Homo sapiens: one gene and its partners. The protein of the gene in region 4 binds, or shares a complex with, the protein of the main gene of each other region. Each region holds a gene or a part of one and is shown on either strand. Other genes may lie near its edges. The genes, in order: DCP1A, PAK1, DAB2IP and ARHGEF6.

Region 1 (7,997 bases), on a different chromosome or scaffold from region 4:
TCTATTCCAAATATGAAAATTCCCTAAAATAACTTGGTGTTCTTTAATAGGCTAGCCCTGCTCAATCAAAAATAGTAAATTAAAATGAAATGTCTTCGATTATTTTAGGAAATCTATGTAAGAAAAAAAACTAAGTTTCAGGTGTGCCTTTTGAATTTTGTACCAGATGAATGTATGTTTTTTAAACATTAAAGTGCAGATTTTTAAAAATTAGGGTGCGGATTTTTAAAACAGATTGAAGGTAAGTAGAGAGGAATAGGGCTCTTACCTCCAGCCACTGGAAGGAAGAAAGGCATCTGGGGCGTGTAGGAAAGGATCCCAGGGTAGAAGATAGGAGTCCCTAGATTCTAATACTGGATCCTCTGTGACTAGTGTGGAATTTTGAGCCAGTGAATTCTCCCCACAGGTCTCAATTAAATCATCTGTCAAATGAGGGTGACGACATCTTCTCTACCTCACCACTGAGCTGTGAAATGAACCAGAGGCCTTACTTTTTTCCCCTGAACTCCCAGTCATCCCTAGAACACCAATTTGAACATCATCTCCTTCAGGAAGCCCTCCTAGACTTTCCCAGCCAGTTAAGTTAGCGGCTCTGTCCTCTGGATTTCAAAGAGAAATGTCTCTAGCATCATCCCTGTTTCCTTGCACTGTCCTACTTTCTTTTTTCCCTCAGAGCCAGGAATGTCTTAAACAGAGTGAGATGCTCCCAAGGGGCCACCAGCTCACAATTAGGAGTTCAATAAATACTGACTTAAGAGTGAATGAATGATATCTGTGTCTTTGTCCACATTTGTACATGTTTACATGATTCTGCAAAGAATCTAAATTTCTCTTTACATTAACAAACAGGGGGGCTGGGCACGGTGGCTCAAGCCTGTAATCTCAGCATTTTTGTTAACCAGGACAGCCCTGACAAAATAACTGGGAAAGTTCCTTTTTCTTATTGTTTTTCTTTGGTCCCTTTATCTATAGACACTGCTGCTTAAAGAAACCAGATGGCGCCAGAGCTTCTTGACCCCTGACCAGATGCCAGAGGAAGATAAGACACCATAAAACCAGCGCAAATGGGAACTGGCAAACCCTGGGTGCCTTTAGATCATGAACATATCATTATAATGCTAATTTCCCTTCCCTAAAAGAAAATCTCTGCCATTTTGTGTACATATGATATATGAAGATGCATGTTTATGAATTGGGCCTGCGTGTCTGGAGTCCCACCCTGCACATACTAACATTCCTTTCCTGCCCCATAGGAATAAAGGCAATAAACCCCTTGCCTTTTATTCTTCAAGAAAAGATGCTTTCAGAGGAAGAGCTCACCTTCTCCATTCCCTGGCAAATGAATAAAACCTGATTGCCTTTTTCAATGGGATATTCTTTGTTTGTGACTGATACACAGTGGGGAAAAAACTCATTTTATCAGGGACACTTTGGGAGACCCAGGCCAGAGGATTGGTTGAGGCCAGGAGTTTGAGACCAGCCTGGGCAATAGAGCCAGACCCCATTTCTAAAAAAAAAAAAAAAAAAAAAAAAAAAAAGTTTTAATTAGCCAGGTGTGCTGGCACACAATTCAAGTTGTTTCACCTTTCTGGACAGAACCAATATACACCTGAAATGTATTTGATGTCTCATCTCTCCCAAAAATGTATAAAACCAAGCTGTGCCCCAATCACCTTGGGCACATGTTCTCAGGATCTCCTGAGAGCTATGTCAAGGGCTATGGTCACTCATAGTTGGATCAGAATAAATTTCTTCAACTATTTTACAGAGTTTGACTCTTCTCATCAACACAATGACAAAAAACAGTGGTCCTGGGATATAAAATCATAGGCAATACAAATATTTAGTGTTATTTTCTTGAAAATATGGTTTTATCTTACAAAAATTTTCAATTCTGTTGGGGATGTCAATTTTTTTTTCTTTCCAGACGTAGTCTTGCTATGTTGCTCAGGCTGGTCTTGAACTCCTGACCTCAAGTGATCCCCACCTCAGCCTACCAAATAGCTGGGACTACAGTTACATGCCACCATGCCCCCCCCTTTTTTTTTTTGGATGGAATTTCTCCCTCTGTTGCCCAAGCTCTGGAGTGTAGTGGTGCAATCTTGTGTCACTGCAACCTCCGTCTCCTGGGTTCAAGCTATTCTCATGCCTCAGCCTCTTGAGTAGCTGAGATTACAGGCATGTGCCACCACGCCCAGCTAATTTTTGTATTTTTAGTATAGATGGGGTTTCACCATGTTGGCCAGGCTGGTCTCCAACTCCTGACCTCAAGTGGTCCACCTTCCTCGGCCTTCCAGAGTGTTAGGATTACAGGCGTGAGCCCACACATCTAGCTACCATACCCTTTTTTTTTTTTTTTTTTTGAGTCTTGCTCTGTCGCCCAGGCTGGAGTGCAATGGCACCACCTTGGCTCACTGCAACCTCCGCCTCCCGGGTTCAAGTGATTCTCCTGTCTCAGCCTCCCAAGCAGCTGGGACTATAGGCGTGCGCCACCACGCCCGGCTAATTTTTGTATTTTTAGTAGAGACGGGGTTTCACCATATTGTCCAGGCTGGTCTCAAACTCCTGACCTCAGGCGGTCTTCCCACCTTAGCCTCCCAAAGTGCTGGGATTACAGGCATGAGCCACCACGCCCAGCCTCCATGACCTTTTTAACGAAAGAAATGTTGCTTTTTAAGAAGTCTGGCGGGGATAGAACTCCCTATAGTCTCCATGATTTGTTTTACTTGTTAGCTAGTGCCTAACTCTTTCAAACGCTTTAAAATGCTCAACAGACACTTACCAATGAAATGAGTGATCTGCTTAATGCTTTAAATGAAGCAAGACAAATTAAACCCTTCATGGACTCTTCCCAGGGCTGGACAAAAATATTTATGTGGGTCAGACGCAGTGGCTCACGCCTGTAATCCCAGCACTTTGGGAGGCCAAGGAGGGCAGATCACCTGAGGTCAGGAGTTCAAAACCAGCCTGGCCAATGTGGTGAAACCTCGTCACTACTAAAAAAAATACAAAAATTAGCTGGGCGTGGTGGCGGGCGCCCGTAATCCCGGCTACTCTGGAGGCTGACGCAGGAGAATCGCTTGAACCCAGGAGGCAGAAGTTGCAGTGAGCTGAGATCGCGCCACGGCACTCCAGTCTGGGCGACAGAGCGAAACTCCATTTCAAAAAAAAGAAAAAGAAAAAGAAAAAATTAGCCAGGTGTGGTGGCGGGCGCCTGTAATCCCACCTAATTGGGAGGCTGAGGCAGGAGAATCGCTTGAACCCTGGAGGCAGAGGTTGCAGTGAGCTTGAGATTGTGCCACGGCACTCCTGCCTGGGCAAAAGAGCGAGACTCCGTTTCAAAAAGAAAAAAAGAAAAGGGCCGGGCGCGGTGGCTCAAGCCTGTAATCTCAGCACTTTGGGAGGCAGAGGCGGGTGGATCGCCTGAGGTCAGGAGTTCGAGACTAGCCTGGCCAACATGGCGAAACCCCGTCTCTACTATAAACACAAAAATTATCAGGGCATGGTGGCGCGCCCATGTAATCCCAGCTACTGGGGACGCTGAGACAGGAGAATCGCTTGAACCTTGGAGGCGGAGGTTGCAGTGAGTCGAGATCGCGCCACTGCACTTCAGCCTGGGCGACAAGAGTGAAACTCCGTCTCAAAAAAAAAGAAAAAAAATCCACTTGTACCTTCTGCTAATCAGTGTATATATTCAAGGCAACTTGAATCTATGCTCCTGGGGTGCAATCCTCAAGCTTGGCCCAAATAAACTCTCTGCTTGCATTTATTTTGCCCCAGAGTCTTCTTCCTTTTAGGTCGACACATCCATATCTGAGACCTAGGGTAATTTTCTGGGCTTCTCGCCTCTCCCTTTCCCCCATGTTTTTCTGTGCTCTCTAAACGGGCCCGGTAGAGTCCCGCATTTCCACATTCCACAGACATGTTTTCCTTCTGTGGCCCCGGGCCCTGCCAGACAGCGCACCGCGAGGCCGGCACTTCGGCGGTCTCCAACCTTTGCCTGGAAAGAGCTCGGCAGGCGAGCTAGAGGCCAGATCCCAGGACCCAGTCGTTTTAGCTCAGGGAAAGGAAGCGCCGGAGCTCCAGCCTGCAAGCTCCACTACGCAGCCTTGGACACCGCCCACATCGTAGGGCCGCGGACCCTGACAACGCCGGAACCCGGCGCCCGGAGCGTGCGCGCGGCGGACCAGAATGGCTGACGTACCGCCCTGCCGCGAGGCCCGCGTAGAGGCGGAAGTTGAGGGGACTGACGCAGATGGGGGAATTTTGCCTCGATGGCACTTTCCTGTCCGCGACTCCGCCCCCACCAGAGGGGCTAGGCTCTGGGATTCAAGATGGAGGCGCTGAGTCGAGCTGGGCAGGAGATGAGCCTAGCGGCCCTGAAGCAACACGACCCCTATATCACCAGCATCGCAGACCTCACGGGCCAGGTCGCTCTGTACACCTTCTGCCCCAAGGCCAACCAGTGGGTGAGTGCCGCCTGGCCCTGAGGACGGCCACCCGGCCGCTGCCGTCTCTTAAAGGGGCCGCGCGGGTTACTGTGGGGTGGGGGGGCACACTAAGAGGCCAGGGCGGTGGAGACGAGGCCAGGGTCTGGCCAAGAGCCTAGCCAGAGCCTGAGGGGTGTCGGGTCCGCTTGGGATTGGGGGATAGGAGTGAGAGAAGTGGCTCGAGACATCCCAAGGAAAAGCCAGTGGAGGGGAGGATTGGAGCAGGATCAGTCCCTTGGCGTCGGGTCTGGGGACGTGGGCGACCTGCCTTCTTTGCAGATACATTGGGAGTTATAAGACCGGTGGGGTCAAAAGGGTGCCTGAAAGCTTGTGTTTGAGGCTTTGCGGATTATTAGATAAATTATATGTACATTATCTATAAAATAAACACTCCTCCTCTCCCCCTGGCAAACGTAAATGAGAGCCCCTGTCGCAGAGGTCATTTGGGTTTAAAGTTTAAAATCCAATTAGTTTCGATTCTTGGAAGGAGGGGGTGGGTGGGTCCGGCTTTAATCGAACTACACAGAGTTTCGGAAAAGATTCCAAGGCACTTAGGAAAAGGGCTTCCGTGTTCACTGGATCCCCGAAGACCTTTGTACAAACAAGAGAGACCCTGTAAATGTGTTTTGTTCCATCTATGATGCTGGTGATGTCATCTCTGAATGCTCCCCTCGGACTCAGTACTTTCTGGCTTTCGTGCACTGGGGAGGGTCCGAAAAGTCACATTCAGTGTGTTCACTGATTCTTGTTAGCCCCTGCTTGAAGCTTTGTTAGTTGTTTAAAAAGCATAATTTCCCACTTTCTTGTAATTGACCCTTCCTAATTAACTCATTCAGCTACAGGCTTTACACTTAGAAAGTAATACGTAAATGCTTGTTGGATTGAATTCACCAATGACTGGAGTTCACATTTCAATAAGATACGAAATCCTTAAACTGACAGAACTCTGGAAGATGACCGTAGTATGTCGTTTACCCTATAATACAGTTGCATAGATTATATTTATCAGTAATTTATCGAAAATCATTTGGCATTTATGAACAGTTAATTCAGATGAAGAGTTTTTATAATCACGTTGTTTATCTTTGCCTCCTGGAAGAGAAGGAGATATGGGAAGCCACAAGGAATAAAATTGTAGATTGTTTTTTAAATGTAGCTATTTTAGACATTGCCTTAGTTTGAAATTTTATGAATCTTTTTTCTTTTCTTGGCCTATATATAAATTTTGAAATATGGATTGCCGACAAATGGTGAAGACTTGGGGCTAGAGTTTTCCTAGTTTTTCACAAAGGCTTTCAATATTTTAAAATTTTACATTGTGGAGTTCTGTTTTAAATATGAAATACAAGCTATAATAACCTGAATTGAAAAATAAGCTGCTACTGTTTATTTGGATCCTGGCACATAGAGCATGACAAAAATCTTTTCCCTCTTTATTATTTTACAGTGAGTTGTAACTTTGCATGATGTTTTTTGGTGGGCAAATTTTCTTTTACTGTAAGACAGTTGATTACCAGTTTCTTATAGTAATAACCTAACATTTTAAAGGTAAGAAAAAGCCTCTGAATCCTTAGGAAGGAAAATAATGATATTTAAGCTAGGGTAGTACTTCTGGAAGAAATCGAGATGATCAATTTTCTAAATTTTTTAATCCCAACACATTCAATATATGACTAACATTTAAAATGTTAATAATGCGTTGATTACAGTAAAATATTTAGGTCCATTGTAGGCTGTAAATTGCAGACTAATAAGCTTATTTATTTTTTAAAAAACACTGAACTGTGTTTAAAACCTAAATACACTCTTGTCACAGAAAATGAACTATGGTAAAGGCCTCCAATAATTACACTGAGGCAGGGTATACTTTCAGTATTCAAGATTCTTCAAGTTCTAAAAATAACAAGCTGATTTTGTTTGGTAGTAATTCTTAACCACAAAATTTGCTAGTTGTCAAAATGTACGAAAACTCCCTAGTGATGAAACAAAGTATCCTATAAGAAAGTTTCATTCCTTTCCTTTTTTAAAATTAACTTGGATAAACTTAAAAGAGAAGAAATTGCAGTATACAGGACCTTAGCTTTAAAGTTAAGAAATCTGGCTAAAATATTTTAGCTATAAAAAGTGAAGGTTTATTCTATGATTTTCTCCTTTACTAATTAAAAAAGAAAAATACTGCAGATACAGATATGTTGCTGGATTAAATATTGCATATGCTTATGCACTGAAAGGATACATTAGAAATGGTAACCACAATTTGTGGAATGAGAGGGAGACTTTACCTGTTCAAAAGTGGTTAATTTTATAATAGATGAAATGAAACAAGTTGATCTTAAACGTGAAGCATTACTTCTCCATGGGGACTATTTGGGGTCTGATTATGGGGAAAAAAAACTAATTGAGTCATTGTCTTTCATAGGAGAAGACTGATATAGAAGGGACCTTATTCGTATATCGAAGGTAAGTTTTTAAAATATGTATATTTGTTTTTAACAGTCTAGTGGTGAACAATGTGAAACGGTTCAATTCTCTTGTACATTTGTCTTTGGAACCGTCCTGCTAGTACCCTTCAAGTTTTCATCTTTCCCTAGCTGTGAAATCTTAACCAGGTTCTTTCTTTTCTCTGAGCCTTTCTGTGATTCAGAATAAACTGAACTAGAATTTATATTACCAGCCTAGCAAAGCAATTTCAAAATAATAATGATTGAGTCTAAAATGGATGCCTGCGTCTCTCTTCCTACCCCCATATTAGAAAGAAAAAGAAAGATATATATTTGGGGAAAAGACAATACATAGACTGGCTCTGTAAAATAATGTTATTGAGAGGTCGATCCCTCTGTTCTTTCATTACTACATGAGTGGTTGTCTTTTATGACTGGTTCTGTCCTCTTTCCCAACCCACAGAAGTTCTGGATTATGTACAGTGTCTTATTTGAGAGTTCTTTAGAAAGCTTGGATTATTCATGATGGCGTATTTTTTATTTTTGACTTATTCAAAAATTCATTATCTTTAAGATTGGTTTGCAAATTGCAACTTTTTTGTTAGGCAGCTTTTGGGGCCTAAAGACAACTGACAGTATATGATAGTCATGGGGTACTTGTTTTCCTGGATTCCTCTAAGGTCTTAACTCTTACAAGGGCAGGTTCCTTCCCTTGTTTTCTAAAGCTTAGGGAGTCAGCAGGAGTTATTACTGATATCTGGTCTTTTCCCTTTTTTTTTTGTATTGAGTTGCTTCATAAGGATTGCCTTTCTCCATTGATGCCAATTTAAAAGAATTTGTCAAATACTCTTCTAAATTTTGATACAAAGCTTTGAGATCTCGTCTAAATGCACTCATTTTTTTCTTCTTTTAAGTGTAATTCTTTGATATTTGTACACCAAGCTCTTTTTTCTTAGACACTTTCTTTGTTCCCTGCTATTCATCTTTCTGCTTTTAAAAAGGAAGGGATCGGCCGGGTGCAGTGGCTCACGCCTGTAATCCCAGCACTTTGGGAGGCCGAGGTGGG
Region 2 (7,878 bases), on a different chromosome or scaffold from region 4:
AGGCACTCAAGTATTTGTTGAATGAATAATGTAAGATGATTTAATTCTATGTATTGCCAGCTGCGACATTGGGGTTTTACTCAAGAACCGTTCTCAGAATGAATAGGAATCATGGTCCAATGTGCAAATCCAAGGGGATCCTAACATTTTTGGGGGATTCATTTTAGGTTGAGCTTTTCCCTTTATGTGTCTCCAACCAAAGCCTGCAAGAATTTTTAGCCTAGTCTTTTGTTCGTTTGTTTGTTTTAACCACCACCTGAAAACTGCTGTTGCAATATTCCAAGCCAGGATTGTTTCTTTTGAATTTGCAAGTTGGTTTTGCAAGTCTAAATAAGCACTCTTAACTTTTGAGTCTTTTAACTTAAAACTGTCTCTTCCTGGTCTCCTGTGGTTTTTGTCTTTCTCTGGTGATACTTAAAGCTATATAGGGCCTGTTTGACTCCACACAAAGGTTTCTCTTCCTTGTCAAGCTCTTAAAATGCTTTGTTTCTTTCACTTTCTTATTAGCCCTAAGATACCATGCCCAGTTTTCTCCTTTCCTAGCTTCCTTCTGGGAGAGTGGCTTCAATTATTCATCCGTTTACTATAAAATTATGAGTCCTTCTCCACCATGTGCCAGACCCTGTGCTGGGCAGGATGTTCAGCTATATACAAGAGTGCAGCCCAAGTCTTTAAGGAGCTAGAGATAATATGACATGATAAGTGCTGAAATGAAGAGATGAAATAGAGGGATGAAAAAAGGTGGTATATGATCATAAAGGGGGGGAGAAAGCTGCCTTTCTATTTGTTTCCCTCAGTTTAGGAATAATTTGTCAAACAAGCATCATTTTGACAGGCAGACTTTTAAAAAATTTTAAGAGGTCATGGGCTTTGTTGGGGAAAACTAAAACAAAAATCAAGGTGGAATCAGCAGTTGCCAATTTGAGACATTAATTCTGTTGTTGCTGGTTTTAATGAATTTTCTGATCCCTCTCCATGTTATTTTTCTAAATAATAACCAGAAAGTGGGAGAAAAATATTTCTTTTTGGCATAGTAAAGAGACAAGTTTAAGGTTATCAAAAGAATACATCTCACTACAGTTTATTGTTTATTTTTGAAAAGCGATAAACAATATGCATCTAAAAACGAGGCTTTTGACTGTTTATGATAAAGAAATGATAAATGTTTGGAGTGATGAATATGCTAATTATCCTGATTTGATTATTACGAATTATATACATCTCAAAATATCATAAATATGTACAATTATTACATATCAACTAAAAATAAAAGGAAAAATGCATTGATTCAAAATTAATAGTCAGTATATTCAAACTTGAAAATAAAAAATTTAAAAACATTCTCCCACACCAGTGTTTGCTCCTTCTGGGTCATTTTCTATGCCCATTATTAAAAAAAAAAAAAAAGTCTCTTCACAGATGTTTTAATTTCTAAGGGGTAATGTTGTAATTTGTAGTGGGTGAAAATGAAACCCTGGAAAAGTTAGGAGACCTTCTTTAGTGTCTATGTTACTGCATGACCTTGTAGAAGTAATTTTTATCTCTGTGTTTTGTCCCAACTGTAAAATGGGGATAGTAATAGTTGCTACGACTAGTTTACAGGATCATGAAGCAATTAAAATAATGACTATAAAGGAATCTTTGAAAAGTATAATTTGCTTGTTAGTTGTTAGGTGGTGGTAAGCTTACTAAAAATGGCTTATGTTACTGAATACCTGTTCTGTACCAGGCCCTATATGAGATGTTTAACATGTTCTTTTTAACCCTCAGAATAACCTTATGAGATGATTGCTGGTATCTCTGTATCATAGGTGAGGAAACCTGAGAGTCATACTAGTAAAGGGAGCTTATTTAAGGTTTTGCTGCAAGTAAGTGGCAGACCAACAATTCTAGTCCATGTGCACCTGACTCCAGCAGCTATGTGCTATTTTCAGTACAGAGGCTGCTTTTAATGTTTCTGCACAGAGGATATAGGAATGTTTTGCAAGTAAATATATTGCAGTGAGAGTTAAAGTTTCCATTTGGTATGTTTTTTTTGTGTGTGTATTAGAAGGCTTGGTGAAGACAGATTTACATTCGTTTACATTTATCATTCATACAGGAAAAATAACATCTTTCCTGGATGTTATTTTGTTCAATCTTCGTAACAGCCCTATGAGATAGGTATTCCCATTTTACGAGTTAGCAGGCTGAGGATCATATTAATAGAAGTCTTGGCTTGCTCAGAGGCACATCATTAATGAATGCCTGAATATTGATTTTAAACCACATTTTAAAATTCTAAGTGTAGTACTTTACTTTGCCACTATAACATATTGCCTTTTAAACTCTATCAAACTAAATTTTGGGGCACTAGACACATTCTTTTAAATTGGTTCCTAATCTCTTTAGCTTCTTCTCCCTAAGAAAACCCTGACTGAAGTCCACAGTTTGAACTAGAAAGGATAATTGCTGATAAAACTCTATGTCAGATGGTCATGATGTTGCAGACTTAGAAGATAATACCTCTTTACTGAAGCTGCCAGATCAGGCTTTATCCAGTATTTGGAATCACTTGTGCCTGAATATTTCCCTGTGCCATCGTAAATTTATTAACTTAATGTGCTACATTTTTCTACCCTTTTTGTAAGCCTTTTCTTTCATGAATATCTTCCTCTTCTCTCCCATTCTTTTAGTTTTTGAGATGGGGAAAGTCATGTATATGCTAGGCTTCTCCGGATTATCCCTTCTTGAGGAATAGTGTAGTAGTAAGTCTAGAAAGAACCAGAGGTTCATTCATCCCTCATGAGTTTTCGTGGTATTGATTGACTGTAGAATTCATCTAATTCTTAAGTCCATTATGTCTTGGCTTTTGTTCCTGGAGTCAGAGTTAGGTAATTTGCATGCAGGATTGGGAAATCCATTCTTGTTTATGGGCTGCTTTCTTTTATTACTTTTCTACTTCCAGCCTTCTCCAATATCCCTTTCCCTTTCAGACTGTTAAGTACTAACTGAGGCTGGCAAGAGCATTTTCTAATTTATAGAATCTGCCTTTTGAATCTTTTGGGATGGCAAATGACAATGACAGTATATGCATGGCTTCCACCCTCATCTGCCTGCCTATATCTTTAAGGTCCAGCTTTCCTTATTTCCTCCTGGATTCCCACAAAGCTAAGATTGATGTCTTCCTCACTGGTGGAACCCTTGATTTGTGTATTACTGCACTTACCAAGGGAGGGTTTAAGGAAGAGCACAAAATTTGAAGTTAGACAAAGAGCTACTTGGACACTTATTTAAATCTCTATTTGTTCATTTGAAAGAAATAATACCTAACTTACAGAATTCTTGTGAAGATTAATAATATATGTAAAAGTGAATTGTAAGATACTGAGCTATATAGATGTTAGGTAGAGTAGTTTGTAATTTTATGACTATGATTGTGTGTAGCAGTGGTTTTAATTTCGGCTATGCACTTGAATTACTTGTGAAGATGTAAAGAGTTGCCTTGGCATCTCTATTTTGAAAGGTTTATAGGTGATTCTGATATGCAAAGTTGAGAAGCACTGCCTTATATTAACAATGTTTTGCATAAATGTCTTATGTAAGTATTATATGAAAAGTAATATTTTATTGCCATTTAAAGTTCATTCATTTGCTAAATACATATTATGCATCAGGCATTGTCATAGGTTCTGAATAAACAGATGAATCATAGCCTCTACCCTTGGGTTTATAGTTTCCGGGAGAAACAGACATGTGCATAGACAATTACACTACATTGAGACAAAAAATGACAAAAATATGGAGATAAGTGCAAGTGCCATGTGAACACAGAGGAAGGGCATCTGCTGCACTTGAAATGGGGGTGGCCTGGCAAGCATTCTTAAAGGAGGTGACATCTAAGATGGGTTCTGAAAAATGATCAGGGGTTAACGAAGCACAGTCAGGGAGGGGTGAGAAGAAAGGGGAGATGATGGACCCTCTTGAAAGAGAGAGCAATATGTGAGCAGAAGATTTGAGAGCCTGTTTGGGGAGCCCTGTGTAGTTTAGTATGCTTAGAAGATAGGGTGTAAAGTGGGGAGGCGTGAGAGCAGAGAGGAGGCAGGGCCCAGATGATGAAGGGCCTTTTGTATAATGTACAAAATACTTTTACTGATATTATCTGACTTTATTCTTTGGACAATCCCCTGGGTTAGCTAGGACAGGTGTTGTTTTATATTCATTTGATAGAAGAAAACACAAAGAGGTTAATTGACTTGCTGAGGCTATACAGCACAGCTAAGATCTGAAGCCAGGTTCTTATGATTGTTTAGTTCATCATGCTTTTTCTATTACACCATAGCCGTCTTAGACTTTTGCGGTGTGGTAGGGAATCAGGTAAGCTCTGTGGATATATGCACAACAATTTGGAAGCTGTAATGTGCTAGACTGATGTTGGCTAACTCATTTTACAGATGAGGAAATTTAGGAGCAGAGACATCAAGCTGTCATTTGAAGACTTTTTTTTTTTTTTGAGATGGAGTCTTGCTCTGTCGCCCAGGCTGGAGTGCAGTGATGCGATGTCGGCTCACCGCAAGCTCTGCCTCCCGGGTTCACGCCATTCCCCTGCCTCAGCCTCCCAAGTAGCTGGGACCACAGGTGCGTGCCACCATGCCCGGCTAATTTTTTGTATTTTTAGTAGAGACAGGGTTTCACCGTGTTAGCCAGGATGGTCTCAATCTCCTGACCTTGTGATCTGCCCGCTTCTGCCTCCCAAAGTGCTGGGATTACAGGCGTGAGCCACCTCGCCCGGCCTTGAAGACATTTTTAAAAATTATTACTGTGTAACCACAGCAAGTCACTTAACCGTCCTGAGACTCAGTTTTCCTTAGCTGTCATATAAATGTGTTGAATTTGATGCCAACTTCTTTGCTTGAATATTTCGACAGTGATTCTTAACCTTCTCACCTACTCCCTGCCCTCACCCTTTCTCTGTGATACACTGGGATGTAGTCCATCAGTAACAGTATTTCACTATGGAAATAGTTCCCAATGGGCTACAGGAACAAAATGTAAATTGCCAGTTTTGGGGATGGGTAAAGAGGGACTTGGTATAGTTGGAGGGGCTCTTGGTTCTCCAATTACCTGTTAGAGAATTACTATTAATATTTTATTTATTTATTTTTTTGAGACAGGGTCTTGCTCTGTCATCCAGGTTGGAGTACAGTAGCTCCATCATAGCTCACTGCAGTGCTGCCCTCCCGGGCTCAAGCAATCGTCTCACTTTAGTCTCCGAGTAGCTGGGACCACAGGGGCATGCTACTAAGCCCAGCTAATTTTTGTATTTTTTGTAGAGACAGGGTTTTGCCGTGTTGCCCAGGCTGGACTCAAGTGAACTGCCCGCCTCAGCCTCCCAACGTGCTGGAATTACAGGCATGAGCCACTTTGCCCGGCCAAGAATTACTATTTTATAACATTCCCTCCCACTTATTTTCTCATATGGAATTATCTCACCAGTCCAGAGTCTGAGATTTTTTTGGTATCCAGGATAGATTTTGCTTAATTTAATAAATTACATATGTAATTTGTAAAGTAACTTAAAAAAAAATAAAGAACCAGGTGAGCAAAATGAGAAAGCCCATTGTGATAGACTTGAAAAGTCCAAGTTTCCTGGACTTTCTAGAGATTATATATAGGATTATATATATAATTTTTGTGCTTTACTGTTTTCAAAACCCTTTTATATAGAGTCTCATTTAACTTAATTCTGTTCTTTAGCCATCATATTTTTATAAATGAACAGAAGTTAAGTGGCATGATTATGTAGCTGGGAAGTTACAAACTGGAATCTTTAATTCATATTTTCTGTCTCCAAATCTGGTCACCTGTTCCTGATCATTTGGGTGCTGCCCTGACCAGTGGCACTTTTTAAAAAATTGTAGGTTCCTAGGAGAATGGTAAAATATATTTATAGTTCCCTCTAACTCTTTCAAAAAATCGTTTTTTTACTATCCATTGCCACTTGCCGGATAATTGACTTAGTTGACTATGTGGTAAAGGTTCCAGGACAGTTAGGAATGGCTGCTGAGTATATTCTTCACACACACACAGACACACACACAGACACACACACACACACACACACACTCTTTCATGTATGTACCAATCCAATACAGCTGGTCCCTGACTTACAGGGGTTCAACTTAATGATTTTTCGACTTTATGATGGTGTAAAAGCAATATGCATTCAGTAGAAACCATACTTGGAATACCCATCCAATCACTTTCAGTGCAGTATTGAATAAATTACATGAGATATTCATCACTTTATTAAAAAATAGACTCTGTGTTAGATGATTTTGCATAACTGTAGGTGAACGTAAGTGTTCTGAGTATGTTTAAGGTTGGGTAGGCTGAGCTACGATGTTTGGTATGTTAGGTGTATTAAATGCATTTTTGACTTAAAGTATTTCAGTGTAAGTTGGGTTTATCAGGTCGTAACCTAATCATAAGTCAAGGAGCATCTGTACAGCTCTATAGTGCTTCTATTTATTCCTTAATTAGACTACACATATTTATTGATTTCTTCCTGTGTGCCAAGCATTGTACTTAGTACTAAGGATACACTCATAAATAATACAGACATGGTCCTTGTCCTTGCTCTTACAAAGATTACATTCCAGAGGGTAATACAGAGAAAAGTAAGTAGATATACAAGTGGACAGTTGCAGATTTTGATAAGTCCTACAAAAGAGATAAAGGACTAATGTAGAGAATTTTGGAGTGATAAGGAAAAGACCTCATTGAGGAAATGATGCTTTTAAACTGAGATGTGCATGATAAATAGATTTTAGTCATGCAGAACACTGAGGGGGAAAAAGCATGTCAGGCAGAGGGAACATTTTAAATGCACAAAGGCCCTGAGAGTAGGTAAAAGTTTAGAGATGTGCTGCTCAATATGGTAGCTACTTAGCCAGTGTGGCTGTTGAGCACACTGACTGATTCACATAGAGATGCACTGTAAGTGTAAATAAAATACATACCAGAGTTTGAAGACAATACTGAAAAAATAATGTAAAATAACTCATTAACTTTTTATATTGGTTATATGTTGAATTGTTAATATTTTGAATATATTGGGTTAAATGTATTTTAAAATTAATTTCACCTCTTTACAAACTTTAAAATATGGCTACTAGAAAATTTGAGATTACATATGTGGCTTTTCTTTAAGGCTAACCGTATCTTTCAGTTGGATAATGCTGGTTTACCTCAACATAGAGGAACTAAAAAAAATTATGGCTGTTGTATAGGAAGCAAGAGTAAATGGTATGAGATGAAGTTGGAGTGGGAGGAAGAGACCTTTCAAAACGCTACCCTGTGTAATATCCTAGTTAATCCGAAGGGACTGAGAGGGGATTATCAAGTCTGATTTTATAGATGGAGACAGTAATTGCCAAAGTCTCTCTTCTCCTCTCTAGAGTGCTAGAATGAGGAGATGAACAAGCACTTTTAGCATAGTATCTTGGGAGTAGAATGCTCTATTTCATTGTTAGCTAAAACAAACAAGTAAATAAATATTGATGAAGAATAAATTGATTAATACAAGTTTCCAAGTGGTCTTGAGACTGCCTCTGGCTATCTGTGGTAGGTGGACCCTCTCAAAGACTGAATTTTTCATAAAAATTTTCCTGTAGGCTGACTCTTCTTGAAACTGTTTCATTTTATACTATATTTCTTTAATTTTATGTACGTTAAAAATTTTTTTTAAATAAAACATTGGCAGGGGAGTATGTGCAGTGAACACCCATATACCCATTATTTAGATTCTGTGGTATTTTGCTGTGTTTTCTTTATCGCATGTCTGTGTATCCCTTGATCCATTCATTAACCTGTCTTATTTTGAAGCATTTCAAAATA
Region 3 (7,878 bases), on a different chromosome or scaffold from region 4:
GAGCCTTGTCCTGGCTCCTTCCTGAAGCTGTGATGCAGACCTGATGGCCAGAGTCCCCTGAGCCTCCAAGGTCTTCTTCCATCACTGCCTGCCCTTGCTGTGGTCCCTTCCCTCATAACACTGTCTTGCCTGCTCCCCACAGGTGACGACGTCATCAGGAAGCAAGTGCTTTTCCTGCCGGTCTGCAGCTGAGCGGGATAAGTGGATGGAGAACCTCCGGCGAGCGGTGCATCCCAACAAGGTAAGCCTGCGCCCCTCTCACCAAAGCATGGGGGATTGAAGGTAGGCTCAGATAGGAGGAAACAAGAGAGACTATCTCTGTGGTGTGGGCTGGGATTGGGGGTGGTCAGCCTGCATGGAGGCAGGGCCCGAGTGGACAATATTGGTGGACTCTGAAAGAGACGTTTGAGTTGACCAGGTTGAGACAGGTGCTGTGTGCCTCTGTTTTCTAAGCTACACATTGAGGCTGGGCTTGGGGAAATGAGTGCTGGACCCTGGGGTCCTTCTGCTGGGACCCCTTGTCCCTACTCCCCAGCCCCTGGCTGAGTTCTGCTCATCTTCCCCTTCCACCTTAGATGTCTGCCCCTCCTCCAGGTGAGGACCCCTGTCCCAGGCTGGTGCCCTCTGTGTTCCCACTGCCCCTGGGCTCCCCCATTAGGTCCTGGGAGCCCCCACTGTAATCCCTGCTTCTGTATCTGTCTCCCTAGCCGACTTGAGGGCTTGACCAAGTCCTGGTCACCATAGCCATCTCTTAAGTTACAGTACAGACCAGCATATTAAGGAAGAGTTAATAATGGCATAGCCTGTGACGTGTCAGGCGTTGTGCTGGCCTCTCTCAGTCTCGCCCTCTATGAGATGGGGGTTTTACCTTAGTGCCGTTTCATAGACAAGCAACCCAAGGCTCCAGTTAAGTTGCTTGCCCAAGGTGAGTGAGCTTCTGTGAGGTCGACCAGAGATCCAGCCCTTGTCCATCATGCCCTGCCTCATCCTGACTTAGGGCCTAGGCGCCCGCTGCCGCCTCCACCTTCAGAGCTCCTCCTGGGTCTGAGGACTCTCTCAGGCTCTGGGCTGGTTGGGGGTTGCACGTGGCACCCCCAGCTGACCACCCTGGACCCCCGTGCACATACAGGACAACAGCCGGCGTGTGGAGCACATCCTGAAGCTGTGGGTGATCGAGGCCAAGGACCTGCCAGCCAAGAAGAAGTACCTGTGCGAGCTGTGCCTGGACGATGTGCTCTATGCCCGCACCACGGGCAAGCTCAAGACGGACAATGTTTTCTGGGGCGAGCACTTCGAGTTCCACAACTTGCCGCCTCTGCGCACGGTCACTGTCCACCTGTACCGGGAGACCGACAAGAAGAAGAAGAAGGAGCGCAACAGTTACCTGGGCCTGGTGAGCCTACCTGCTGCCTCGGTGGCCGGGCGGCAGTTCGTGGAGAAGTGGTACCCGGTGGTGACGCCCAACCCCAAGGGCGGCAAGGGCCCTGGACCCATGATCCGCATCAAGGCGCGCTACCAAACCATCACCATCCTGCCCATGGAGATGTACAAAGAGTTCGCTGAGCACATCACCAACCACTACCTGGGGCTGTGTGCAGCCCTCGAGCCCATCCTCAGTGCCAAGACCAAGGAGGAGATGGCATCTGCCCTGGTGCACATCCTGCAGAGCACGGGCAAGGTGAAGGTGCGTGCAGGCCCCTCGGCTCCTGACACAGGCTGGGCGGCAGCACTGGGTTACCTGCCCTTCCTCACATCCGTACATTTCAGGCCTAACAGAGGCCTTGGAGGCACCGGTCACTACCAGAAGGGCTCCCTAAACCCAAAAGTTCTATCGTGGGCTGGGGGTTTTGTACTCCTGCTCTGTGGCTGGAGCTGATCACTGAGGCCTGTGTGGAGCCAGTGGATGGGATTGCAGCTGGTAGTGAGGGAGTGGGCTTGGGTTGAGGTGCCTTCCACCACTGCTGCAGAGGACCGACCCCCTGAGGCGCCAGGGGAACAGGCTGGGTGGCCACGGCTCTCCCAGCACACAGGTCCCACAACGCCACCAGCCGCAGTGAGCCAAACACACGTCCCCTGTGGGGTATGGAGTTCGGCAGACCTCCCCAGCACGATGCACAGATGAGCCTCCCTCACAGCTCTACCTCACCCCACACTCTCACCCAGACACACAGATTGTCACACAGGTAGACACAGTCAAAATTGTACTATTCGAGGGTTAGCCAGCCCCACCCCAGAGCCTCACAGAAGCGGGAATCGTCTGAGACCCACCCAGGCAAGTCCTAGTTCAGGGCCAGAGGTGCTCAATGTCCATCTCCATGACCCCTTTCACCTTCCGCTCCCGAAGATGGGCCCAGCAGCCCACCATGCAAGCCGTGCCTCAGCCCCACCTACCCGGTTTGGGGACAAATGGGCTCCTGGACCAGGGTGCCCCTAGGAAGGCAGTAGAGCATGGTCTGTGGGCCTCGAAGGCGACCTTCTCTCTTTACATTTGCCACCTGCCATTCAGGAAGCTGGCCAAAGAGGGTGGGAAAAAGGGGCTGGACTTGAGGCCTCTGCAGCGTGGATGGACCCTGGTGCTGGGCTAAGGACTGGGCCTCTGCCCTCTGGACAGTGGCGTGTTGTGAGCCAAGTGGCAGGTGGCTGAGGGGCACCCTGTGTCAAGGTCCTAGGCCCTTAGCTCTGGGTCGGGGAGGCACAGTTGGGAGCCATACCCCAGGGCAGAGTCCAGGGCACAAGACTCGTGGAGGTCCCTCACCCTCTCACCTGTTCCTAGAGGCCCTGGAAGGGGAGGCCATGGCTGGAAGCCTCAGCAGCCTCTGCAGCCCCCCTCCCTCTTGCACTTGCTGTATGCTGCAAGTGCAGGGCTGGGGCGGGGACCTCCTCCCCATGGACCCGCGATGGGGAGCAGTTTTCCTCTGTAGTGCTCAGCTACCTCCTCCCTCACCTTCTCCCCCAGCCTTCAGACTTGGCTGGCTAGGCTGCACGTTGGGCCAGCTCTGGCTGCCCCGTCCTTAACATGCTGGTCAACACTGGGGACGTATGCTGGGAAACGGAATGAATCAAGGACCCATGGGCACCAGAGAGGGAGTGATGGGGGCTGCAGAGGCTGCATTATTTTCTGCAGTTGTGTCTGATGTTTCAGTACCTGGTTCCCAGGGCTGGGCTGGGGCTGGCCTGGGAAGCGGATTCCTCCCTGAAGCAGCCTGAAATGATAGGTATGTCCAGGTGCTCGTGGAGGGAGGTGAAGTCAGGGCTGCAGCCAACCCCAAAGGCCCTCAGTGGGATTGGGGAGCAGTAGATAGAAGCATAGAAAGTAACTTGTGCTGCTGGGGTGACAGGTACCTAAGCCCCCACCCCTGGAATACTTGGGAACTAGCCCCTCTTCCGTCTCCACGGCTAGAGGAGTAACGGAGTCTGGGAAGCAAGGGACTTGGACCAGATCTGGCCCCAGGTGGCTGTGTGGCCTTGGACAAGTCATTTTCCTGCTGTGTGTGCATTGGTTTCCCCCTTATTGGGTCCTGGCTCTCAGGAAGTTCTCATCCCAGCACTGGGGCCTGGCTCTCATTGCGGGAGTTCAGGAAGGCTGCAGTCCTGAGCGGGAGCCCTGGAGGAGCCCCGGGGGAGATGCACCTCTGACCCCCGCTTTAGTGTATTCAGAGAATGAGACCCTGGAGGTCGCCTGCTGGTCAGGAAGGGGTCCTCAGGCCACATGATCCCCAGGAAGCCAATGACAGCTTCCCCTTTGCCCCTGCTGTCCCTCTGTGCCTCTGCTGTGCACCCTGGGTTCCTGTGTCTAGATCTCAGTTCTGTTTTAAAGGACCCCAAGGTCGTGCATGTCGGAGTGAGGAATTTCTTGAGCACAGATGCCTGGGTCCACCCCTCCTGGGCACCTTGCAGGCTCTGTGCTAGGTGGCCCCCTGCCCTGACTGTCACCCTCCCTTGAAACTATGACAGTTTTTCCTATTTTCTTCCCCTCCCCCAAGCCACAGGTTAGTTGTGAGCACAAGGAGGTGGGGGCTTCTGAGGGAGGGTGTTAGTATCTGCATGGTTGCTAGAGTAGGGGGAAGGTGTGGGTTCGGGCTCCTGTGCTGGGGTTTTCCCACAACACTGTGTGTGGGACCTGATGGGCCTGGGGCTGCTACCCTGGATTGCCAGGTGGGCAGTGGCGCCTCCACCTTCCCTCTCCAGCCAGTTGCACATCACTTCCTGCTCTCACCTGCCTGAGCATGGTGGCTCACGACCTCCCCGGGCAGTGGGGCTGCACAGAAGGCATCTGTGTCTGGTGTGGGAGCCCCCACCAGAGTCATAGGTGGATACTGATGGCCATTCTTACCATGAGACAGGGCAGCCTCATTTGTCCTCTTTGGCACTGATGGTGCGGGGAGAGGCGAGTCCTGCTGTGGTCACCAGGCCAGGCCTGATCAGGGCTGTACATGGAAATGAGTCCATTCTCTGTGGTGGTGGGGGCTTGTGGCTCCACGTGGCATGCTCTCATTCAGGCTGCCTCCATCCATAGACCCGGCTCTACTGTCACCAGTTCTAGGCTCCTACCCTGGCTGGGGGCCCCTGCCCTGCCCACACTCCCCAGCAGCCCCCAAAGGTGGGCACACTGTTCCTCTCCGGGACCCCCGCAGCTTGGTGATGGAACAGCCTCAAAATGCCAGGACTTCTCTGGCTAGGTCTGGAATCCTAGGGCCCTCCATGCCAGGCCAGCTCAGGTCCTGCTCTCTCCACCTCCTGCCTCCCCAGGACTTCCTGACAGACCTGATGATGTCAGAGGTGGACCGCTGCGGGGACAACGAGCACCTCATCTTCCGGGAGAACACACTGGCCACCAAGGCCATTGAGGAGTACCTCAAGCTAGTGGGCCAGAAGTACCTGCAGGACGCCCTAGGTAGGGAGTGGGCCAGCAGCAGGGCAGAGGGTGGGGCAGGGCCCGCCAGGTCCTCACTCCCCACTCCCTGCCCACTTGTCCATAGGTGAGTTCATCAAAGCGCTGTATGAGTCAGATGAGAACTGCGAAGTGGATCCCAGCAAGTGCTCGGCCGCTGACCTCCCAGAGCACCAGGGCAACCTCAAGATGTGCTGCGAGCTGGCCTTCTGCAAGATCATCAACTCCTACTGGTCAGTGCGGTGCCCAGGTCTCCCCACCCTGTCGCCTTCCCCATCCTGTCCTTCAGTGTCTGGCACCCGCAGTGTGCCTGATGCTGCCTGGCCCCTGAGTTGTACTGACTTGCCAGTCCCCTGGCCTAGTCCCTTTTGAGCTCTCAGGTGGGGCAGCGTTCAGCATGTTGCTGTGGTTTTGTGATGGAAAGAACCTGGACACGCCAGTCTGCCGTCTCTGGTGATGAGGGAGCGCCCTTCATGTGCCGGGGGCTATTGTGGGTGCTTGGGCTGCAGCGGGAGTGAGACTGGCAGGCCCTGTGTGGGCCCCCACTTGGGGTGGGCGGATGGCTTCACCTGAGGCTCCTCACCTGTCCGTGGGAGCTAAGGTGCTCATGTCACAGCCTTGTGATGGGGCCAAGCAGGGGCACGTTGGGGGCCTGAGCACCAGGCAGGCCTCTTGCTGGGACTAGAGAATAAACAGAAAGGACTAGACTTTGAAGTAGAACGGGGTCTGCAGACTCTGCCAGCCCCAGAAAGCAGCAGGGCATGCAGCAGTGGGCTGCTTAGACAGGCCCCTCAGCAGGACCGGAATCAGTCCCGGAGAAACTTGCGGTAAGGCCGACTTCACGGCCACCAGCTTGCTCCTGGGATATATGTGTGTGATGGCCAGCCAGCCTGGTGCCGAGTATAGCCTCGTTCTGTGGTGGCACACAGGACTGTGCGGGAGGGCCTTGCTGTCAGCCCAAGCAGTGGGTTCATATTCACCCCAGAGGAGCTGCCCAGGTTTAACCTGTGTCCCCCTCCAGCTCAGGGCTTACAGCCCCCACCCACCCAAGCCTCCGTCCACAGCCTGTTCTGACACCACTCTCTCCCCGGCCTTACCTCACTCCTTGTTAGGTTCATCTCTTTCACTCACCTGCACCTTCCCCTGCATACACTCCTGCCCTTCCTGCTCCGAGGCCACACCTGGTACCCTCTGTCGCAGCCCTGATCCCATCAGGATAGGGTTGTGCCTGTGCCTAAAACATTTCCTGTGAATGCTGGGGCACCCTGGGGGCAGGTGAGCCCACCACCTCAGGACTGGGCACACAGGAAGGCCAGAGAAGTGTTTGCTGCTCCCCAAGGACAAGAAAAGGCAGGGGGAATGGGCAGGCCAGGAGGGTTGGCACCCAGGGCCTTAGCCCCTGGGCTATACAAGGTGCTTGCCTGGGCCAAATGGGCACCTCAAGATGGGCCACAAATGTGCAGCTTTCCACACCCCTGGGCCGGTGGAGGAGAGCGACTGTAGGGCCTTGAACTCTGGGAACACACTTCCCATTCCCAGCTGGGCTGTGCTTTCCCCCTCCCCCTCTTCCAGGGGGGCTGGGCATGTGACTCAGGGAAAACATATTTGTGGACAGTGATTTTCCATTTCCTCTTTCTGGCATTTATCAGAGGCACCTCTCCATTCTGGACAAGGCCATTGATAGATGTCACCACTCAACACCTGCCCCCTGTCCAGTTCTGTGCCAGGCACTGTGAGAGCCACGGCTAAAGGTGGCTCACCTTCATTCCCCGCTAGGTGTGCCCTTGATGGGTCAGCCAGCATGCATTGCAGGAGAGCCTGCTGAGCAGGCTGCTGGGCCTGTGGGGGAAGAAATTTCAAGTTGGTCAAGCCTGTTGTAGCCTTGGGGTTTTAGCCTTACGATGGCTCTGTGAGCTTGGCAGGGCAGGCCTTGCTCTCAGTTTAGGGGAGAGAAAACCCAAGCCTTCCAGGAGGGCTAGGGCCTTGGTCAGATCACCCTGAGCTCATGGCAGAGCCAAGTGTAGACTGAGTTCACGGACCACTGGGGCCTGGCCTGCCCCAGGCTGGGAGATGCATCTTTTAGGGAAAAAAGATAGGAAACCCACTTAAGGGTTGGCCAGGTGGGCCTGACCATGGCAGGCCAGGATGCCCAGTGGAACCAGGAGCCCCATTGTCTAGGGCCAGCTCTGCCGGCTTGCTCCATCACCCTGGGGCAGTCACTACCTCCCTTTCCCTCCCCATGTAGAGAATGGAGAGCTGTGTTGTCCCACCGTGTTCAGGGGTAGTCCCATCTTCTTGATCTTTCTGAGCTTTTAGGAAATCCTGGATTCCTGTGACATTATTCAAGCAAAGGAAATTAGTCTCAAAGCCAGTGATGGGAACCCAAGGAATAGTGGTCTATTCCTGTTTTCCTCACTTCCCCCTAGACCCAGATGCCTGCTGTTTGGGTTGAAAAATGAAGTAGACACTGGCAGAGAGGTGGGGAGGGCCCAGACCAGAAGCTGGAGAGGTGGTTCAGCACTGGCCCTTGGCAGTTAATTCCGGTTAGGACGGAGAGCCAGCTCCTCATGCCTCCTCCCATCCCACCTGCCCGGCCCTTCACTGAGAACCCACTGCCCGATGGGAGCCTGGGTCTCCCTGCTCCTCCTCCTGCCTGGGCACTTGCTCCAGCCACCCTGTATTGACTGCTCTCCCCAGATGGCTGTGTCCTCAGAGCTCAGACAGCGGGGCTGACCTCACGCAGCTGGCGGGGTAGAGCCAAGGTTGGAATGCAGGTTCCTGCTCTGTGCACTCCTGTCCTGGGCCCCTGCCTGACAGCCAAGCCCACCTTTGTCTGTCCCTACACAGTGTCTTCCCACGGGAGTTGAAAGAGGTGTTTGCCTCGTGGAGGCAGGAGTGCAGCAGTCGCGGCCGCCCGGACATCAGTGAGCGGCTCATCAGCGCCTCCCTCTTCCTGCGCTTCCTCTGCCCAGCCATCATGTCGCCCT
Region 4 (7,878 bases):
TGAGTGAAAAAGGTTGAGACTGGCTAGAGGGCTTGGTGAGAGCAGACTAGCTAATGAGGGAAATGGGAGAGGAAGCTGACACAGCACAAGAAATCTTTCTGCACACCGGCTAGCAAAAAAAGAAGCAAAAGACTTATTTTTATAAAGCACTGTTTATTTTTATGTATTGAAAATGTCCATTTTAAAAGTCTTCAAAATAAAAACAAGTTAGAAAATTTGAGCTTGTGTTAAGAAGGGGAAGGACAGAAAAGGAACTGAAAGGCCTCTACGGGCAGCAGTTTAATTACAGGGCAACAGGAACCCATTTATAGAGTATTGTAAACAACACAACTATGGCGACACTGCTCTCAGATTAACATGGCTTCATTTCCTTTATATTATAGTTTAGTGTGTAAGCATGGTTACCACTCTGCACAAGCTTCGTTATCCAGAGTACCGAGGGCCCCTCATCAGAAGGGCCAAGTCCCCGAAACATGCATATGTACTCATCACTGTAAAATGAAGACCTTTCAATATTTTCAGCAATCAACTAAAGTATTCCGTAATCACAAAAATGTTTCCTATAGATGCAGTTTGCACATTTATTGCAAGCCATTGACTAACCACAGAATGGGCAGATGTGAAGATCTGTGTTGATGTTGTTGGTGGTGGTGGTAGTACTGATGTTTTTAATTTTTAAGTGAAGGATGTTATATCTAAATGGCTGTGCTAAAAAACAGAACAACAGCCATTCCTAGAAATTTCTTTACTCTTCAGCTTCCAAACACGGCTGTGTGTGGTTGGCTGATGTTGGACTGCAAAAATAGTCCATTTCCTGTGGATGGTGTAATTTCTGCTGTGCAGCAAGCAGACAACAGCCCTGTACCATGTAGCTATGGGACCTTGAGACTCTCAGTACCAAAAATAAAAAGGGCTCCTCAGCAAGCTGGGGGTTTCAAACTTCAAGTTTTGTTTTTTCAGAGACAGAGGTGTCTCTCTGTTACCTAGGTTGGAGTGCAGTGGTGTCATCACAGCTCACTGCAGCCTTGACCTCCTGGGCTCAAATGATCCTCCCACCTCAGCCTCCTGAGTAGCTGGGACCACAGGTGTGGGCCACCATGCCTGGCTTCAAGTTTGGTTTTTAAACAATATTTGCAAAACCCACATTTATAGGCATCCATCAAATATATTATAAAGGCAATTCTGATCAGCCCTTTGGCCTCAATTTCCAGTGACCTTCCCCATCTGGCCAAATTTCTCTTGTCTTTTGGGGAGGGAGGGGTGAGTGGCACTGAGCCTTAGGCCAACTTTCAATGGCGCTGAATTTGGATGTGTGCTGTTCTGTGACTGTCTTCTAAACCTGGTTTCTCACAGTTCTAGTTTCTGGGATAAAGTGGATGATGTGATTCAATGAGCAACTTGAGTTAATCAGTCCTGAATAATCCAGCACACAGCTACTAGAGGGGCCCTTTTGTTCTGGATGTACAAGTTGGACCAGAAGCATATTTCTGCAAATACTGCTTAGAGTCCCACCCAAAGAGGCCAATTAATATTACAACTTCTCACAGCATATATGAGAGAGTAATAAAGTGAATGAAAGCTGTCTAGTAGGGCACAATATCTTCTTAATGCAGATTGTTTTGAAGGATAAAACATCACAGTTTGAATATGCAACGTACATAAAGTAACTCCTCACAGTCTAACTACATTTTTTTAAAAAGTAAGCAAAGCACATACATACTAGTTTACACACCACTTGGTAAGGTTGGCTAAAAGTACTGGGGAAATAGAAAACTTACACACTAGGCAGAATGAGGGAAAGAAACCTATCATGCAATGGGAAAAGGCGGTCAACTCTGCTACTAAAAGGGAGGATTGTCCAGTAGAATTTGCTGATGGATTTGGTGTTGGTGTGGGTGACCAGAGCTTCTGCCCCCCTGAGTTACAATTTACATGACACAAAAGGAATAAGGGTACTACAGTTTTCTTGGTCTTATAGACAACATAGGGCAGTAATTTTAAAACCTGTGATTGAGGGGAGGCATGTGATGGTCTAAGGAAGGGCAGCTGGATCATTGGGCAGATGTGTTTGTCTTTCATCCTACTCAAGCCATAGTCTGGAAGATTTGCCTTCGGTAAATTAAGTACTAAGAGGCTTGCAGGTACAGGAAAGCCCTGGGGAAAAGTTGGGTTCACATTTAATAAGCCTTGGCCAGCTGCTTTGCAAGGGCAGCCAGCCCAAAGAATGTGACCTGAGGGCAATGGCTGTTGCAGAGGCACTGTGAACTGAAGGCAATCTGAAGACCTTTTAAGTAACTGGCCTGCATTCCCTTTCTCTTTCTTACTGAATGGAAAAGACTCTGAGGCCATCTCTACCACCACTTCCTGCTTTTTCACCTGTTGAAAAAAAAAATGAACAACCAACCAATAACCAAACAACAGCAAATGCCCAAGCGCGCACGTGCACGCACACACATATGCACACAGCGGGGAGAGAAAGAGAAGAGAGAGGGAGAGAGAGAGAGAGACTCAAACACAAAACAAAAGCCAAAGAAGTGAGCAAACTGAGTCAAATCATTCAGCGGGACATTTCAAGATGCCCTGAAGGCACACTCCACCCAGTGGCACAGTGATGGTTATGGAAGAATTGAGGTCTTGCTACTGGACTCGCCTCGAATACACTCATCTGTTTGCTTCAAAAGCCTCCGCACCAGCTTTTCTAGGTCCCTTCTTGATTTCAGTTCTTCTTCCAGGCATTGCTTCATTCTTTTATTTTCCTATGATGGGGAAAGATTTGTTGATTATCAAACAGAGGGGGGCCCTTCCAAGGGCTCCTCCTGCTCATCCTCGGGGCAGCTTTCATCACTGACTCTCTTTCTTTCCTCGACCTTCCCTCCCTCAGCATCTATGACAAAGCAGCCTGTCGATTCTCCTGCCTGTCTCTGGGAAACCTTTTGGATTCTTCTTCCCTGCCCTGATCCTCTTCTAATTTAACTTGCTTTTCACTTAGTGTCACTTCTGTTTCAACCCAAGTGTCTATTAAGGGGACTCCCAAATATCTCTGGTACTGACCTTGTCTCCTGAGAATCGGGTCCACAATCTCAACTGTCAGCCTGGTATTTCTTCTTCTTCTTCTTCTTCTTATTATTATTATTATTATTATTATTTTATTTAAGAGATGGGGTCTCACTCTATTGCCAGGCTGGAGTGCAGTGTAATCATGGCTCACTGCAGCCTCAAACTCCCGGGCTTAAGTGATCCTCTCACTTACCTGAGATTACCTGGCAGCAGCTTGGTATTTCCACCTAGATATGTCACAAGCACCTTAAACTCATCAGGTCCTAAAGTGAACTCAGTATCTCTCTCAACACCCCAAACTTCTCCTCCTCCTGTGATTACTGATCTCCATGAAGGGGCACCACCATATGCAACCAGACACCCTGGGAAGAAGCTTCATCTTTAATCCCTGGCTCTTTCTTAATCTCAAAATCATATTATCCTCGTCCATAGGTTCAAACTCTGCAGTATGCCATCCTTTACATTCGTTTCCTCCTCCCCAGCCTCATTACCCTGCCTCAGTTCAGGACTCTGACAGGTTTCACCCTGAGTTTTGTAAGAACCTCCTAAGTGGTCTTCTAGTCCCTGGTCTCTCTCCCCTCGCATCCATCCTTCACTCTGTCACCAGATACAGTCAGTCCTCACACACAAGGCACAGTGTGCATCACGGAGCACTAGGCCACATCGGCAGAAAAGCCCACAAACCATGATGAATGGTTCTCTTTACACTTACACACTCATGAATGACTAGTCTTTTCTTAAAGTCTGTTTATGGATGTCAGAGAACAGGAAAGTTGTAACTAACTTTGGGACTCTATTGTGAACTACTACATAGAAATACAAGCAAGCCTCGGAAATTTAAATTCAAGGCTTACATGATAAAATCAACAAAACCTACCTTGATGACACAAGGAAAACAAAAATCCCCCCTCGCTACCTTGCTCCTAGGCCTTCCCTGAAAGCATGAGCAGCGTGAGGCAAGAAAAAGAGAATGGTTCTATTACCCGAGAAAATGATTTTATATTTTATTACCTGCTTCAGTTCTCTGACCTCGTCCTTCAAGGCGTAAACAGTATCAACAAGGCTCCTAGAAAATAAAGATAAAATTCAGAGACAAATGGCTTGCACTGAGGTACTGTTAAAATACTTAACAATAAAAGCCACTTTATAAAAATACAGATCCTGAAAAACAGTGGACTTTCTAGCTGATTGGGAATGGTACTGCTCTAAATGGTTTCCATCTTCTTGACTTTGATGGAAGAACAACCACCACCACACATGCTTAGCTAAATGCAATGTCATTACACCTTTTCTATACTTCCCTCCTCCTTTTCTACTCACTTCCCAGCTTGGGTGAACAAAACACAAGAGACTAGGGCCCGTCACTAAGTTTTTCTTTTTCTAGCTTTGTTGAGGGATAATTGACAAAGCTGTACAATGTGATGTCTTGATATATGTATACATTGTGAAGTGGTTACCATAATCAAGCTAATTAACATATCCATCTCCTCACATAGTTACCTTTTGTATGTGTGTGGTGGAAATCTACACTCTTAGCAAACTTCAAGTATACTCCATTGTAAACTATGCAGTCTTCCCTCCCTCGGTATCCATGGGGTATTGGTTCAAGGACCCCCATGGATACCAAAATCCACAGATGCTCAAGTCCTTAACATAAAATGGCATAGTATTTGCATATAACCAATGCACATCTTCCCATACACTTTAAATCATATCTAGATTACTTATCATACCTAATACAATGTAAATGCTATGCAAATATTTGTTATACCATATTTCTTAGGAAAAAACAATATGGTATAACAGTGCATACATATATCAAGACATCACATTGTACACCTTTGTCAATTATCCCTCAACAAAGGCGGAAAAAGAAAAACTTTACTAGGTATGAAAAAAATCTGTACATGTTCAATACAGATGCAACCATCCATTTTTTTCTGAATATCTTTTTGATCTGGGGTTGGTTGAATCCACAGATGCAGAGCCCACGCATGCAGAGGGCCAACTGTAGTCAACATGCTGTACATTAGTTCTCCAGAACTTATTCATCCTGCATACCTGAGATTTGGTACCCTTTGACCAACATCTCCCCATTTCCCCTTTCCCCTCAGTCCCTAGAAACTACCATTCTGCTCTCTGTTTTTAGGAGTTCGACGTTTTCAATTCCCGTCATAAGGTTTTGATTTCTCTAGCTTTGGGGCAGGAATGAACATCACCTATCATATAATGAGAGGTATCACAAGATTGCCTAGTCTACAGTATCTGTGCTATGACATTGCCCTTCCCAGTTCTCTGACTGCACATGACACAAAGTCAGAGGCATTCTTTCTGGAATATCTCAACCATACAGTACCCAAAAAAGTAATTTTTTGGTAATTACTGGGTTGCAGAACAGCCTTTTCCTCTCTGGGTCTCTCCCTGGACAAAGATTTTGGAGATCTAAGTTTTGGTTCTGATCCTGCCACTTACTAGTCCTCTGTTCTCTGGGAACCAGTTTCCTTCTCATCCTCTCTTGGTCTTAGTTTCTTTACATGTAAAATGGGGATAATAGCACATTTTCTGAAAACCTCACAAAGTTGTAAAAATGAATATCGTTATAATAAGAATTAACTAACATTATTTATTGAGCTAGCCTTTATACTTATTTCACTTAACCTCACAACAACTCTGAAAGCATTACCGTCATCCTTATTTTACAGATGAGGAAACTGAGGCACAGAGAGGTGAAGCAACTTGCCCCAGGTCACACAGCTAATGAGTAGCAGAAGTGGGAGTTGAACCACACTGTTTTTTGCTTGAGCCCAAGTACTTAACCATTTTGCTGTATCACTTCACACATCAGATGTAAAATGCATTGACAATGCCAAGCACCTTGAAATATGCTGTCCTATGCAAATTTAGGCCTGACTTCAGAAATGACTCAAGTTTAGACAAATGAATTATTTGGCTACTTTGTGTTAATTTTATGAGCCAGAAGGTACTTAACCTGATTTTCCCCCATTAGGTCACCCACACTACTGTGTAAAGGTAAGTCAGAGACATAATTTCCCTGAACTTCCTGTACCTCAGTTTCTTTATCTGTGAAAGTGGTGAGAGTAATGTTTATCTAACCGGATTGCTGTAGGATTTTAAATGATGTCAAAAATGTGAAAGCACAGCTTCTGACTCAAAACATGTGAGTGGCATCTCTCCGGGCAAGGAAATTGGTTCTGTGGCTGGAATTCCCAGCCACTTCCTAAACCCATCCAGGGCATTGATATTCCCATGTGCTCAGAAGCAGCTTACTGGATGGGGAGCTGGCTGCAGGGGCAGCTGCCAGCTGGAGCTGCCTTGGAGGGCTCTGTCACCGCTGCTTTTCCTTCCTCTTTCCATTTGTTAGTGGGCAGCCCTCTAAAGTCTCCCAAATGCATGCACAGCAAAGCAGGCCGCATTCCCAGGTAAGGAGGAGTTGTCCCTCATCATAGACTCTCCAGGAGCTCCCCGTCCTACCAGACCTTCTTGCCAGCCCCAAGAGAAACTAGGCAAGGTTTTGCCTGCTCTACTCACTTTTCTTCCATGATGGTCTGGCCGTTGCTTCTGGTTTCTTCAATGATGAGTTTCTCTTCCTCAGGGAGTAGGACTTGTGGAATGGAATCTTTTCGAGTACCTACAAACAAGGGTTGCAAGATGGGGGAGGAGGGAGAGTTACTAGTGAAGAGTAGAAATAGTGGGTGTTAGTTCTTTTCCACTATTGTTACAGAAGGGTCTTTGTTCATAGCATGTTGCTACATTACACCCAGAGGACAGTCACCCATCATTTGCTGACTAAATTTTCCTGACATGAGAAATTCTAAATGGCCAAATACACTGATTCAATCTTCCCGAGGTGGGAAGCATTTTGTATTCAGAAAAATAATGCAAAAGAGCCCCTGTAATACCTGTCCACAACCAAGACCTCCATTCTTTCCTGTTTTGCCTCCTCCAGAGCAAAGAGCTGACCAGTGATCACTCTTCCCTGCAAATCTCCAAGGAAGGACACACTACATCCTATGCTACAGTGTTTTGTCATTGTAGTAAAAGGTTGACAGTAGCACTGCACTGAAACACAATGTGCTTAAAGGGCCTCAGAAGCATCATCACCCCCATTTGTTCTCTTTACAGTCTTATAGGGTAAGGTAGGTATGTCTCCTAAGACCATTTTCATCAAGGGTGGAGTGAGGTTTGGAGATTATCACATCATCAGCAAAGATGTAGGTGTCCTCTGCCCAGAATGTCTCCAGGCTCTGGGACAGAAGAGGTGACAGAACAGGCATGGGGGCCCAACCAAACAGCTCTCCTGCACCTCCCTCACTCTGGATCCTCCCTCTCAGAGCTCAAGTGCTTAATCTTGGGTCTCCCTGAGCCACTGGCTTCCTCTCTTCTAGGCCAAGTTCCTTCAGAGGTGTGCACACTCACTGCCTTCACTTGACCACCTCCCCTTTCTTGAGGTAAGATGTGTCTCTGCCTTCTCCAGGGCCTAGCACTTTGTAGGTGCTTAATACAGGTGGCCCCCCATATCCACATGTTTCACATCTGTGGATTCAACCAACCGTGCATTGAAAATGTTCAGAAAAAACAAAAAACAATACAAATTTAAAACCCAATGCAGTATAACAACTATTTACACAGCATTTACATTTATGAGGTATGATAAGCAATCTAGAGATGATTTAAAGTATATGGGAAGATATATGGAGGTGATAAGCAAATGCTCCACCATTTTACATCAGGGACTTGAGCATCGTCAGATTTTGTTATCTCTGGGGGTCCTGGAGCCAATCCCCTGCAGATACCAAGGGA

Evidence for each region.
Region 1: ARHGEF6 (region 4) and DCP1A share a complex: the UniProt entries of both Homo sapiens proteins name them as parts of the cytoplasmic complex.
Region 2: ARHGEF6 (region 4) and PAK1 share a complex: the UniProt entries of both Homo sapiens proteins name them as parts of the cytoplasmic complex.
Region 3: ARHGEF6 (region 4) and DAB2IP share a complex: the UniProt entries of both Homo sapiens proteins name them as parts of the cytoplasmic complex.

What each region holds. Positions count from the first base shown.
Region 1 is NC_000003.12:53,343,855-53,351,851, reverse strand, and holds the start of DCP1A (mRNA-decapping enzyme 1A), read left to right. Parts: upstream 1-4,308; 5' UTR 4,309-4,334; coding exon 4,335-4,469; intron 4,470-6,909; coding exon 6,910-6,950; intron 6,951-7,997. UniProt on the Homo sapiens protein: Necessary for the degradation of mRNAs, both in normal mRNA turnover and in nonsense-mediated mRNA decay. Removes the 7-methyl guanine cap structure from mRNA molecules, yielding a 5'-phosphorylated mRNA fragment and 7m-GDP.
Region 2 is NC_000011.10:77,463,217-77,471,094, reverse strand, and holds part of PAK1 (serine/threonine-protein kinase PAK 1), read left to right. Parts: intron 1-7,878. UniProt on the Homo sapiens protein: Protein kinase involved in intracellular signaling pathways downstream of integrins and receptor-type kinases that plays an important role in cytoskeleton dynamics, in cell adhesion, migration, proliferation, apoptosis, mitosis, and in vesicle-mediated transport processes.
Region 3 is NC_000009.12:121,758,756-121,766,633, forward strand, and holds part of DAB2IP (disabled homolog 2-interacting protein), read left to right. Parts: intron 1-142; coding exon 143-241; intron 242-1,129; coding exon 1,130-1,684; intron 1,685-4,749; coding exon 4,750-4,894; intron 4,895-4,979; coding exon 4,980-5,124; intron 5,125-7,738; coding exon 7,739-7,878. UniProt on the Homo sapiens protein: Functions as a scaffold protein implicated in the regulation of a large spectrum of both general and specialized signaling pathways.
Region 4 is NC_000023.11:136,665,414-136,673,291, forward strand, and holds the end of ARHGEF6 (rho guanine nucleotide exchange factor 6), read right to left. Parts: intron 6,707-7,878; coding exon 6,607-6,706; intron 4,124-6,606; coding exon 4,069-4,123; intron 2,757-4,068; coding exon 2,616-2,756; 3' UTR 137-2,615; downstream 1-136. UniProt on the Homo sapiens protein: Acts as a RAC1 guanine nucleotide exchange factor (GEF).